Linked DNA regions of Homo sapiens. The protein of the gene in region 2 interacts with the protein of the main gene of each other region in a pairwise test. Each region holds a gene or a part of one and is shown on either strand. Other genes may lie near its edges.

Region 1 (7,035 bases), on a different chromosome or scaffold from region 2:
TTGCACTGTCTTCACATATACACTGCTTCTTTCAGGGGAGTCTGTAAACTACTCTTTCTTTCATAAATTTATGATTGTTCCTGGAGGACATCCTATTTTTTAAAGTCCCCAAATCATTAGCTTTATGACAGTGTGTGTGTTTGTGTGTGTGTGTGTGTGTGTGTGTGTGTGTATGCGCACATGTGCGCATGGGAAGGGGGGGTGTTACTTACTAAATGTCTTCATGTACATAGAAAAAGAAATTTCATAAATTTACAGAAACTGCATTACCCTTGCCCTTGACATCTGATAAAAGAGATTGTTAACTTTTAAAAGGAGAGAGCAGGATTTTCAAGAATGCTTTCAACTGTCTATACAGTCACTGTAGTGTTCCTAGTAAATTCAACAGATGTCGTGAGAATGTAGTTATTTATTAAAATCTCATGTCTTACATAATGACAGCCATGAGGTTAAATATTTACATTGCTTTATAAAAGTTCCCCTCTTGCTTTAGTGTTTCTGTTTTGCTTTTTTTTTGTTGTTTTAAATTTTTTTAAATGATATTCACCCACATCCCTAGTACAGTGACAAAGATTCTGCAAACATAAAACACTTCTTTAATTAAATAATACTCGGAGGCACAAAGCAAACTTCAGGAATATGTGGGTGAACGTTTACTTAAATAATTACTACATTCTAACATCTTCCATGTGTTTTACCATTTAATGTGAAACGTCCTCATTAAACAGCCAGAGATACAGTAAGAATTAAATGTTTTGTTGCAAATAGAACATTCTTTTCACAAAACATAACAAATGTCTAAAATAGGTTCTTAAATCTAGATAGGAAAAGGTAAGCTTTCCACTTCACACGCATATATATATATGTATATTTTTACATGTGTGTATATGTGTGTATGTGATTTTATGTTCACACATCTGCGCACACATATATAGCACATGGTATGAAATATTGCTTCTATACTACTTTTCATTAGGCTAAGAAAACACAAGATTTGCACCACAGTTACAAAAAATTGGCTTCTACAAGAATTTTCAAAACTCGAATGCTGCTCAAACAATTGAGGAAAAAATAATTTGCGGTATCAAACTGTTCTAAAAATTCTCTTCTTCAAAAACGTATTCTCCCGCTTTGTTTTAAAAAGACACAAAATATGCATAGCTATCAACGTTATGTCAAACAGCCAGAAAAAAAATCTAGTGTTTATTGCAGCTGTAGTAATTGGAAATAAAGTCAAAAAGATGAAATCGAAAGCCACAGAAGGCACAAGAACAATTGTACTTGTTGGGAAAAAACTGGTATTTTGAAGGATTTTTTAAAATCCCCCCCGCTGGTGCATTTTAGGTCTAGGCACAGACTATAACCTCAAGCGTATACGCAAAAATAATTTAGGGTTAGCAGAAAATAAGTGGTAGTGTGGTTTTTCAACATGGACTTTAGACTTTTTTTTTTCTTTTCCTATGTAAACTGTCCCTCATCCTTCACCATCCCACCATAGAAAGTTAACTTTCTCCCAAGTAGCCAATTTTCACTTGGTGAGAGTTGAGCTAAGATTTGAAAGATGGTGATTAAAAAAAAAAAATCAAACTGTTAAATAGGAATTTGGAGAGACAGGCTTTTGTCATTTTCCAATGCACTTGGGAGGCACAAGATTTCGATTGTAAAAGGGAAAACCACCGGAAAGCATAGTGATAAAGTTCTATTTTCAGAACAAAGAGGTGAGTTTATCCTCATGCTGCAATTTCTACTCTGAAATAATTTCTATGCCTCAGTGAACATTGAGAGGATATTATCAGTAGATAAGGGCATCAACATTTGGTTGTGAACACACACTTTTGCTTAATTTGTCTATTTAAATTAGAAAGGGAGGGGAAAATAATACTAAAAAAATCCAAATAAGTCTGGAATCAATATTGAACTCGCCCCAGATCAAAAAGATATCTAGCAATCTGTCTACATAGGTGAATACACTACAGCTTTGCCTTTTACCTTGCAAATGGCAACACAAAGTTGATATGAATTACACGGAACAGCAAAAACCCAGTGGCACACTGACACGAACAAGGACTGCCATCCTCTTTTAAAACAAAGCCAGTCAGAAAACTGTGACTACAAGTTGGGATTACTTCCCTATTTTGTGCTGATGGAATTTTTCCTTCCCACTTTATTCCAATGTCATGATTATCCAAACTGCTTTTTTTTAAAGCAAGTGAGAAAAATAACAAATTGGATCTAATGACTCTGTGCATTAGTAGAGTGTGAGCTGGGAGATGTGTGAGGCCGCGGGTGCAGAGTGAGGTGGCTGGTGCCCCCGCCCGTGTGGCTGCACCCTCTGTCTACACTGCGAGGCCCTGTTAGTCCCCTGGATGGTGCAGGGCATCATAGGACTGCACCATTTAATTTAAAGTCAGCAGGTTTTAAGGCTTTGTGCTGACAATAATTGAGTTCATACATTCCTGTCCATCAGCAGAATTTATAAATGACGTTAAATTACAGCGATCGGGTCAGCTAGTCAGTCACATGGGTCAAGACCTGTATTCTCCAAAGTCAAATGTAATTCTTATTAAAGTTGAATTAAAAAATGGCATTTATGTTCTATATGTTCTAAATACCAGATTTGTTACTGTGTCATTTTAGGAGGTGTATATCAAATTACCTAAGGGGAAGGAAGGGTCTGGAAAACAGTTTTAGGATGAACAATGAATTCTTACTGCATCTGGACACAAAAACCCACCTAAGAAAAAAAGTGTGAATGCCATACGAGTTTTTTCAATGCAAGTAGGGAACACTGTACATCATTGAAAAACAGGGAAAAATAAAAGGGAAAAAAGAGGAGAACCATGGAAGAAAGCATAAAATAGCAGCTAGCTTTCTTATGTGTGCTGGAATTGTGTCTTTTGGGTTAACCCCAAATTTTCCTATGCTATACACTCTTCTCACATTTTGGTCAATACTAGCTTCTGAATTGGAAGAGGCATTATCAATTGCTTTAAAATGTTATACCTAAAATGAAGAAACACTGAGTTAGACTGTCACCACTTTGCATACCCATCAGGATAGTGTGGAATTGCTTGTGAAAATATATGTGTTCCTCTTAGGAGATGACGATCAAGTCAGCTAATGGCTGTCAACAAACTTCTAGTGTAGGCAAGAATTTTATGGCCAAGTTGGGCTTTCCTTTATTCCTTACTGGAAGGAAGTATTCAGAAAATAGTATTTTAGGGGAAAAAATTGTTAAGTAAACAGAATCCTTTTAAGCATATAAACAAAGTTGAGCAGCGTAAATTGGAAACTTAGTGCCTTTTAGTATCTGAAGCAAAAATGATAACAAGTTATAGGATTTTTCTTTATGAAGAATGATGTAAGCTCACTTATGAAGAAGAACCTATTTTCAAGTTTAGAGAGGTGGCTACAAGACCAGGTATGAATTTCTAGTCTCATCTTGAGAGAGCTGGTTTTGTGCAAAATTGCTTTGCCTCCAGAAGAAACTGGTACGACTTTCAGAGTTTGCCTCTTTTCTTAGACAAGGCTTGAGAGTGATTATTTTTCTTTTTTAATTTGGCCTTTTGGGGTACTTTGGAAAAGTGAGCTGCTCATCTGTCATTGGAATTATTTTTAAACATGTAAGGAAAAGCTACTGATTGAGTTCAAACCAAACAAAATACTTAAATGTATGAAGTGGTTTCATTAAATTTTCAGACCTTCTTAGCAGTAGAAACAAGAGACACATCACTGTCTGTAGAGTTGTGCTGTGTCATGGGTTTTCCTCAGCCAACCGCCATTTGCAATAAGTCATCAATCAAGTGGATGCATCGTTAACAAATTCCCTTCATTGCTAATAGAGACTTTACACACGCCAACATTCTTTTTCCCTGAAAATTAACCCTATTTTAAGTGTCCAAATGTTAAGGGCCTTGGGCAAAAGCAAACTAAAGGCAGAAAGAAAACAACCATCCCCTTGCAATGGAAAACAAAAGAAAATGAGAGAAACGTGATGAGGAGGAATTACCAGCTGATTTCATAACATATCCATGCCTCCCATACACATATATATGAAATCAAAATCTAGACACATATAACTTGGACATCCAAAGGGGACTGCTACTCTTCATACATTCAAAAAGAGTTGTTGAAATTTCTACTCATGAAGCAGCTCTTGTAGGCAGTTCGGGGATTTGAAAATCTCAGGGACTTCACTATCCAGCTTGCAGATGACCTTGTATATGGCCTTCTTCCAGGAAGGATCAACATCTTTGCCTGCGATAATGGCATTGAAAAACTCCCGTAATGTGATCTGAGCAACTTCCAGGAATCTCTCTGGAACCTGCTGATACAAGGAGACAATGGCATTAATAAAGTTTTCAGTTTCAAGTCTACAGTTATTCCAAGGAAACTGAGCTAAGATCATTCTTGCAGAAAGGGGCTTACATGGCACCTGCATTTTCTAAAAATAGCTGGCTTCTATTCTTTTAATGTAAAGTCATTATATATAGAAGCATTGTGATGTGGGGTTGACAGCTTTGTTTTAAGAAGAGTGTATGAAAGATCCAACGCAGACCTATTGAAAAACTGGGATTTCATTGTGGATATTAGGATAGGAATATGGGATGTGACTTTTGGGATTCCTCACTTTATTAAATAAGTGCTATCCAGAAGAAAGTCTCCAATTATTTTTTCAGAATTTGAATCCTATTTCTTTTTGATTGCCATGATGAAAACAAAATACGTTCTCAAAATAGAATAACAAATAGTTGGGCTTCTTTATAAATTAAACCCAAGCTTTAAATGAAGAAAATCTTCTAAAATCTCAGTTATCTGTTTGTCTCAGAGGATTGTTGACTCAGATGCTAAGTTGTATATTAATCTGCAATATAAAGTATTCTATATACATAAAGGAGTAAAATAATAATATTAACATGAAGTCACAAAACTGATCCTAAAATATTACATCAGAAACTACTTAACCTTGAGATTAGAATTGCTCCATAAGAGAGTGATTTATTCAGCTGATAATAATAATAATACAAACTAACTTTTTTCGAGTATTTACTACTTGCCAGGCTATGTTTTATGTACTGAATGTGAATTATGTCATTCAGTTCTCCCAATCTCTCTAAGGGGTGTTATTATCCCAGTTACACAATAGAAAACTGAGGCTCAGAGAGGGTAAGGAAATTCCTCAAGGTCCTTATCATCCAAAATAAACATTCCCCAAATATTCATTTTAGAACCCCAATTTCTTAAGGCTTTTCTTCCACAGCAATTAATATGTATGTGTGTTGTGTGTGTGTGTGTGTTCTCTTAATTACTTATTAATCTGATCTCTTGACTAAGGAAAGCAGTAGCTACTGATGTACTTATTTAGTGTTCTTTGGAAGTTACTTATAGTACAGCATGGTCTATCTATCCCCACACCAACATAATGGAATCACAGAATAATCCATGAACTCATGATTTTCCAAGTACACATTGACACTTAGTAGATTTCTTTTAGTGGGGTACTTATACACCAGTAAAGTTTCATTTTTACATTAAGTGCAGACGTATGAGGACATAAACGTATCATAGGTGTACATGTAGCCATATTTATCTACGCATATACAAGAGATGAAAGACATTTCATCTAAGTTCAGACATGCCACGTACCAAAGTAAAAAGGAAGTAGTGTAATGTTGAACATGTTTCATCTCTTTCTTCCCACCTTGGGTGCAATGTACTTTTTAACAATAGTAGTAACTGGTAAAGAAAACCAGAATCATCACCCGACATCACTGTTTTTCACGTTTAAAATTGGACAAAGAAGTTCATTGTTCCCTATGGCAAGTTAATTGTTGTTTATAAAGAAATGTAATAACTCTGCAGAAAAAAATGAAAGGGACTCCTTTTGGGGCCAATCAGTCTTAAGCTTACATTTTTATCAGACCCTCCTAAAGACTTTCACACTGGCCCATTTCTTAGGACATAATTCCCAGTGTTGCCTGGAAAATCCTTCAAAGTGCCGCCTTGTCCGCCATGAATGTGCAAACCCATACACCTCAAGGGCCATTCTCTGCTGAGAATTCATGTGGATTTTCTACAGGCCTTTGGGTGATTTCCTCCCAAATGTCTTGTATACATGAGTATTTGTTGGAGGAGAGCTTAGCCCTCCCACTCACATTATACAAATAAAAATTCGTGAAGCAATCTTTTCTAGCACAGTCACCTCCACCCCCAAAGATAATCCTCCACATTCTATCAAATGAGCATCACTGAGGGAGGGAATGTGGCTGGAGAACAGTGAAGCGGAGCAACTGCCCACTCTCACTCCTTGGATTGGGAGCTGTTAGCCAAATGCTACAGAAACATAATCATAGGCATTTATTAATTTATTTATTTGAGATGGAGTTTTGCTCTGTCACCCAGGCTGGAGTGCAGTGGCATGATCCTGGCTCACTGCAACCTCTGCCTCCTGGGTTCATGAGACTCTCCTGCCTTAGCCTCCTGAGTAGCTGAGATTACAGGCAAGTGCCATCACGCCTGGCTAACTTTTGTATTTTCAGTAGAGATGGGGTTTCACCATGTTGGCCAGGCTGGTCTCCAACTCCCAACCTCAGGTGATCTGCCCGTCTTGGCCTCCCAAAGTGCTGAGATTACAGGTGTGAGCCACTGCACCTGGCCAATTATAGGCATTTATTAAAATAAACGTTTCAAGAAGGGTGGTTTCATCAGCCAACGGCAATACAGCCTCAGTGAAATTCTATGTTCCTTGAGCACTCAGGGATGCAGCATGACATGGCAGAGAGCTTTGAGGGGTGAAGGTGTGGGCAGCTGCCCCAGAGAAGCCAGAGAAGGCCGGAAGCCCTGCCCACACCAAGAACTGCACAGGAGGTCTGGGGAACCAGGGACAGGGGAAGGGCAGGCATTGTTCAAGACTGTCAGAGGAGAGAGAAGAGGTACATCTAGAACATCAGCAGCAGGGGAGGGAGGGAAGTGTAGTTGTAGGATTTGCATGAGAACAAGGCAACTTCTTTGGGGGTTGTATGCAGTCTCCTCTTC
Region 2 (7,315 bases):
AGCAGTGGTTTGTAGTTCTCCTTGAAGAGGTCCTTCACATCCCTTGTAAGTTGTATTCCTAGGTATTTTATTCTCTTTGTAGCAATTGTGAATGGGAGTTCACTCATGATTTGGCTCTCTGTTTGTCTGTTATTGGTGTATAGGAATGCTTGTGATTTTTGCACATTAATTTTGTATCTTGAGACTTTGCTGAACTTGCTTATCAGCTTGAGGAGATTTTGGGCTGAGATGATGGGGTTTTCTAAATATACAATCATGTCATCTGCAAACAGGGACAATTTGACTTCCTCTTTTCCTAATTGAATACCCTTTACTTCTTTCTCTTGCCTGACTGCCCTGGCCAGAACTTCCAACACTATGTTGAATAGGAGTGGTGAGAGAGGGCATCCCTGTCTTGTGCCAGTTTTCACAGGGAATGCTTCCAGTTTTTGCCCATTCAGTATGATATTGGCTGTGGGTTTGTCATAAATAGCTCTTATTATTTTGAGATACGTCCCATCAATACCTAGTTTATTGAGAGTTTTTAGCATGAAGGGTTGTTGAATTTTGTTGCAGGTACTTGAAAGGAAGAGGGGCTGGGACAGGAGCTTTATGCTGAACAGGTTGGCTAAACATACATATTCTGGCTAATTTTTTTGTGTATTTTTAGTAGAGATGGGGTTTCACCATGTTAGCCAGGATGGTCTCGATCTCCTGACCTCGTGATCTGCCTGCCTAGGCCTCCCAAAGTGCTGGGATTACAGGCGTGAGCCGCCGTTCTTTTTTTTTTTTTTTTTTTTTAAGAGACAGGGTCTCACTATGTTGTCCAGGCTGGTCTCGAACTCCTGCGCTCAAGCAGTCTGCCCCCCTCGGCCTCTGAAAGTGTTGGAATTACAGGCGTGAGCCACCGTGCCTGGCAGAAAATATAGTTTATTCTTTAGGTGTAGGCGTGTGTGACTTAACCCTTACCTGACACGGCCTTAGGTCCTGATTATAATTTGGTATCTTATTGCCATAAAGAGTGCATTCTGTTAGTCTATGATCTCTATTTTAACATTGATGCTGGTCAGATGTTGTGTCTGAACTGCAAAAGGGAGGGAGTATAACCAGGCATGTCTGACCCCCTGACCTGTCATGGCTGGAAACTCAGTTTTTAAGGTTTTTCTGGGGTCTCCTTGGCCAAGAGGGTCCATTCAATTAGTTAGGGGGCTTAGGATTTGTTTTTAGTTTACAGGGGAAATAAGCCTATTAGGGGTAGACAGATCTGCAAAGCATGAGTGTTGGCAGGAACTTAAGCAACAAAGAGATACGGTTAAAATGTCGCTTTCTCTTTCTCCGTAGAAAGCCAGAGGAATTTGTGTTTTCTCCAGAGAGGGTGGGACAGAGGAGAGAATGGTGGGGCAGGAGGGAGAGTTAGTGATTTTGGAGGAGGCTAGAGGGTGCAGGGCCAGTTAGAAAACCTCAGCTGGGGGTGTGGAAAGGACTTCTAAAAACTTCTGAGGGGCCCCCTCCCCCTCCCCCGCTCCCTCTCCCCACGGTCTCCCTCTCTTTCCACGGTCTCCCTCTCATGCGGAGCCGAAGCTGGACTGTACTGCTGCCATCTCGGCTCACTGCAACCTCCCTGCCTGATTCTCCTGCCTCAGCCTGCCGAGTGCCTGCGATTGCAGGCACGCGTCGCCACGCCTGACTGGTTTTGGTGGAGACGGGGTTTCGCTGTGTTGGCCGGGCCGGTCTCCAGCCCCTAACCGCGAGTGATCCGCCAGCCTCGGCCTCCCGAGGTGCCGGGATTGCAGACGGAGTCTCGTTCACTCAGTGCTCAATGGTGCCCAGGCTGGAGTGCAGTGGCGTGATCTCGGCTCACTACAACCTACACCTCCCAGCCGCCTGCCTTGGCCTCCCAAAGTGCCGAGATTGCAGCCTCTGCCTGGCCGCCACCCCGTATGGGAAGTGAGGAGTGTCTCTGCCTGGCCGCCCATCGTCTGGGATGTGAGGAGCCCCTCTGCCTGGCTGCCCAGTCTGGAAAGTGAGGAGCGTCTCCGCCCGGCCGCCATCCCATCTAGGAAGTGAGGAGCGCCTCTTCCCGGCCGCCATCACATCTAGGAAGTGAGGAGCGTCTCTGCCCGGCCGCCCATCGTCTGAGATGTGGGGAGCGCCTCTGCCCCGCCGCCCCATCTGGGATATGAGGAGCGCCTCTGCCCGGCAGCGACCCCGTCTGGGAGGTGAAGAGCGTCTCTGCCCGGCCGCCCCGTCTGAGAAGTGAGGAGACCCTCTGCCTGGCAACCACCCCGTCTGAGAAGTGAGGAGCCCCTCCGCCCGGCAGCTGCCCCGTCTGAGAAGTGAGGAGCCTCTCCGCCCGGCAGCCACCCCATCTGGGAAGTGAGGAGCGTCTCCGCCCGGCAGCCACCCCGTCCGGGAGGGAGGTGGGGGGTCAGCCCCCCGCCCGGCCAGCCGCCCCGTCCGGGAGGGAGGTAGGGGGGTCAGCCCCCCACCCGGCCAGCCGCCCCGTCTGGGAGGTGAGGGGCGCCTCTGCCCGGCCGCCCCTACTGGGAAGTGAGGAGCCCCTCTGCCCGGCCACCACCCCGTCTGGGAGGTGTGCCCAACAGCTCATTGAGAACGGGCCAGGATGACAATGGCGACTTTGTGGAATAGAAAGGCGGGAAAGGTGGGGAAAAGATTGAGAAATCGGATGGTTGCCGTGTCTGTGTAGAAAGAAGTAGACATGGGAGACTTCTCATTTTGTTCTGCACTAAGAAAAATTCTTCTGCCTTGGGAAAAAAAAAAAAAAAAAACTTCTGAGGGGTGAGTTTAAACTGTTTGCCATGTATCATATGACCTCCCCCAGGGCCCAGAGTACCCTAATGTCTTTGTACTCGTCAATGTTTTGTGTGGGAAGGGTGCGGGCAGTCCTTAGGGAGAGCTGAGTTTCCTCTCCAGACTTCTGAACTGTGGTACGCAACAGCCTGGCAAAAGCAGAAACCCAGAGGCAGAGATATTTAGGAGAATATAAATCCCCAGATATTTGCAAATATGTTAAGGGAGGGACTCTGACTTTCACCGTCCATTTTTACCTCAATCTCAAAGGGCAAGGAGGTTGACATCTAAGTTACAAATATAATGCACAAGCATTTCAAAAAGTAGGGGAAAAAAAAGAAAAAGAAAAAGAGAAGCAGAAAGAAGGGGGAAAAAATCACTCATCCCTGCCAGGCACGGTGGCTCACGCCTGTAATTCCAGCACTTTGGGAGGCTAAGGTGGGAGGATAACTTGAGTCCAGGAGTTCAAGACCAGCCTGGGCAACATGGCAAAACCCTGTCTCTACTAAAATTACAATAATTAGCTGGGCGTGTGGCGCATGCCTGTAATCCCAGCTACTTGGGAGGTTGAGGCAGGATAATCGCTTGAACCCGGGAGGCGGAGGTTGCAGCGGGCTGAGATTGCGCAACTGCACTCCAGCAGGGGCGACAGAGTGAAACTGTGTCTCAAAAAAAAAAAAAAAAAAAAAAATCACTCATCCAGATAGCTAGGTGTGGCCTAAGGAGCTTGCGGCCTACGGAAGGTGTGGCCGAAGGAGAGGGGAGGGGTCATCTTTAATGATGATGGAGGGGAGGCATTGGTCATATACCTGAGAGTCAAGCTTTGTTCATCGTCAGATGAAAGCCAACTTCTTCCACCAGATTGCCTCCCAGCTGCTAGGTAGTTTCCTGTGGTACATCTTAAGCGGTAGGTTGGGATAATAGGTCCCTTCCAGGTCTTAAAGATGTGGATTAATAAGAACAGAATTTTCTACAACAATAAGGAGGATGTCCCCTATTTTAGGTGAATAAGCGTATTGCATAAGCACATGGGAAGAAAGGTTAAGAACTCTAAGACCGTAAATTTCCAGTTGTAGAAGCCTCTTGAAGGCGGAAAGCCCTTTTTTGAAAATTATAGGCGATATGATCTCCTCCAGTGGACCTAGCACTGGGTTAAGAGTCTCTCCAGACTTGTCACTGCAAGTCACGTACCTTTTCTAGGACTAAGTTTCTTCACTGGAAGATGAGGAGGTTGCACTAGATGACCTAGAAATTCCCTTCCAGCTTTAAATTCCCTCTTGTGTCACTTGCTGGACTTGTTCTACTGGACCTGGCGCTCCCCTGCTCCTCCCTTAGCTGCTACGTCCGCATCCCGCACCAGAGGGCGCCACAGGCTGGCCCGGGGCAGCGTGCGGTGGGCGGAGAGGCAGAATTAGGGGAGTCTCCAGGAGGCGTGGTGATTGGCCGCCGCCGGGCGGAAGGGGGCGTGGGGAGGGAAAGGCCGAGCAGCGCGGTGACGTCTCGCTGGCGGGGGCGGGGCCGGGCCGCGGAGCGTGTGACGCTGCGGCCGCCGCGGACCTGGGGATTAATGGGAAAAGTTTTGGCAGGAGCGGGAGAATTCTGCGGAGCCTGCGGGACGGCGGCGGTGGCGCCGTAGGCAGCCGGGACAGGTCAGTCCGAGACGAGAGAAGCGGTCAGGCAAGTGGCGGAGGGAAGCGCCGGGCCTGGGCCGAGGCGGCCAGCGGGACTGGGGCGCAAGGCCCGGCGGCGGGGAACGGGGTGCGGGGAGCTGCCGGGGTCCGCGGACAGCGTCACGGCGGCTTCCTGATGCTCCGGCCCGCTCCGGTCAGCCGTCGTGCGTTGCCATGTAGGCGCCCCGCTGACCCTGCGCCCCCCCGCCCTTGGACCCCCATAGCTGCTTGAGTGAGTCCGAAATACGGGCCTCCTTCCACCCTACTCTTTGCCCCCTCTTGGGCCTGGTGGCTTCGTCTTCTCCCACTTGTGAGAACCCCGTCTCAGGCCCGGGGGCCTCTCCCATTCCCCTCCCCTGCCTCTGACCTCTTCCTTCACCCGTTTCTGGTGTTCCTGAATCCACTGCCCTATCTAGCGAGAGTCTTCTCTGGGATCTTTTCCTCTGTCCCCCTCGTTATCCTTGTCTCCTGCCTTCATCCTCCCATCCTTGCTCTCTCAGGCTTTACTCTCTCTCCCCATCCCTGTCCCCTTCTTATCTGTGGTCTGATCCCTCCTAGTATTATGGGTCCCCATCCTCTTCCCCAGGGTGTTCCTAGGCTTTTTCCAACTCCGTGCCTGCAGTCCCTGTCTCCCTAAGACTCTCACCTTGGTTCCCTGAGAGGCCCTGTTTTTGCTCCTTTTTCCGATTTCCTTCGTATCAATTCTGTCCCCTACATTCCTGTCGCCCACCTCCTTTTCTCTCCCTGTTCCTTTCCCCTGCTTCAGGGAGAAGCCTTAGCTCCACACTCTACTCTACTTTCACTTGACCTGCAGTTGACATAACCATGGGGTGGGGGTGGAGGTGTTCAGACCTTGATCGAATTAAGAGGCTGATTGACTAAAGGAAATAACAGATTGTGTGGGAGAATGTACGTGGGTGTTGCATCAGAGATGATGTCCAATTTGTAGGCCATTCTTCTTATCTCAGCTTTAATACTTCCCCTTTATGGGGCTGTTGACTTCCAGGAACCCTTGGGGGAGACGGCGCTGAGCTGGATGTGTGCCACGGGTAGCCGGAGGCTTTGTCCAATTCTTTTCCCCTTCCAGGAACCGGGGTTTTGTGTCTTTCCACTCTGGATGTGTGGAATACACTTATACCATGATACCCCAGCCTCTCTCTGCCCTCACTCCCACCCTCCACCCTGTGCTCCATCCGAAAGGACTAAGAGAATTCTCCAGAAGCTGTGCTCCAGAAAATACTTGTGGTCCTCAACCTTTTTTCTGTGTACTGGCTCCAGAACTTTTTTTTTTCCCGTTTGAGTTTTGAAATAGATTGCTGGCCTGATAGCCCTGGGGCTGGCGGGCATCTGTCCCCTTTTATTATTGGTGGCTTGAAACAGCTGCTGATTTTCTCTCATATCTCTTTGACAATCTTTGGCCAACTGAATGTGCCTCTGATGTTGGTCACTGAACATGTTCTCTTGGAGTCTCTTCTCCCTCTTTTTTCTTTGTTCTTTTCTGAATCTAGGGAATCCAAATTGTCCCTCTTTTTCCCTGGGAGCTTAATTTCCTCTGTATCCAGGAGGAACGGCAATCCCAGAGCTCTGTTCCCTTTGCCCAGGCATAGTATGAGGTATCAGATTGATAACTACCCTGGTGGGCTGTGGGGCTGCAGTAGTTAGACCTTGTCAGGAACTTGAGCAGACACATCTGCTTCCAGTCACATAGATCATCTTCTCTGGGGCTTGAGAGCCCACCACCTTCCATGTGTGTCTGGATGTTTAACCTTACCAAGCAGAAGATTCTCGTCATATCCTTCAGTTTGAGCTCCTTTATTTGGCGTTGGTTCTCTAAAGAAGTATTCAAGAAATAACATATCCTTTGTTTCTACCCAGTCTGATCTTGGAGGATTCTGAAAGCGTGACCCACTCTCATGTTTAGAAATGAAGGCTCATTGTTTCACCTGGCCCCAGGTTTCTAGGGGCTCCTCTTTTGATGATTGTGCTGTCTTTGAGCCAGATTGGACATGGGAGTTGGCAACCTTTAGGAGCTGCGGTGGAGAGCCAAAGGAACCAGCTTGACCAGACTTTAAAGTTTTGTAATCCTCTTGTACACTGTTTTCTGTGAAAGCAATAGGATTGTGGATGGCCTGTTGTTGAGCCAGTCCCTTCTCCACTGACCCCCAGACCCCCTTTGCAGCACTTGCAAAGATTTGGGTAGACTGGACCAGAGGGTTTTCCTTGTTCCTGTGAATAGCATCTCTCCAGGGTTTTAGTGGATCATTCTAAAGAGGTAGAGGTCAAGTGTTGGACAGATTTTTAGTCTAGTCTCTGGCTTTCAAGGACTCCTCCTTACTCTTTTGAGCAGTTTGTTACTTCTGGCCGTGCTTACCCCTTAGTAGTGCTCTCTGCTGTGGTGGCAGGTGAGAGATTTGAGAACAGGTCAAGGCCAGTCCTTGTGGAGCAGCTTGGGCACCAGCAGCCCTAGATGGATAGCTTCTTGCAGTTTGTCCACTCTCATTTTCTGAGAAGGTAGTCATGATTGTCAATTACCAAATTCCTTCCCCATTCAGTGATTTTTGCAGAGTCTGGGTCTGGATTTTCTTTCCTTCTTTCTTTTCTGACACAAGGTTTTGTTCTATTGCCCAGGCTGGAGTGCAGTGGTGCTATCATAGTGCACTGTAACCTCGAACTCCTGGGCTCAAGGGATCTTCCTGCTTCAGCCTCCAGAGTAGCGGGGACTACAGGTGCACACCACCACACTCAGCTAATTAAAAAACAATTTTTTTGTAAAGACAGGCTCTCACAATGTCTCGAACTCCTGGCCTCAAGCAGTCCTCCTCACCTTGGCCTCTCAGAGCACTGAGATTACACTG

What was found.
Region 1: the proteins of PPARD (region 2) and PROX1 interact in a two-hybrid assay, tested with the Homo sapiens proteins (one study listed by BioGRID).

What each region holds. Positions count from the first base shown.
Region 1 is NC_000001.11:214,032,938-214,039,972, reverse strand, and holds part of PROX1 (prospero homeobox protein 1), read right to left. Parts: intron 4,328-7,035; coding exon of another isoform or gene 4,325-4,327; coding exon 4,139-4,324; 3' UTR 1-4,138. UniProt on the Homo sapiens protein: Transcription factor involved in developmental processes such as cell fate determination, gene transcriptional regulation and progenitor cell regulation in a number of organs.
Region 2 is NC_000006.12:35,338,243-35,345,557, forward strand, and holds the start of PPARD (peroxisome proliferator-activated receptor delta), read left to right. Parts: upstream 1-4,315; 5' UTR 4,316-4,439; exon of another isoform or gene 4,440-4,467; intron 4,468-7,315. UniProt on the Homo sapiens protein: Ligand-activated transcription factor key mediator of energy metabolism in adipose tissues. Receptor that binds peroxisome proliferators such as hypolipidemic drugs and fatty acids.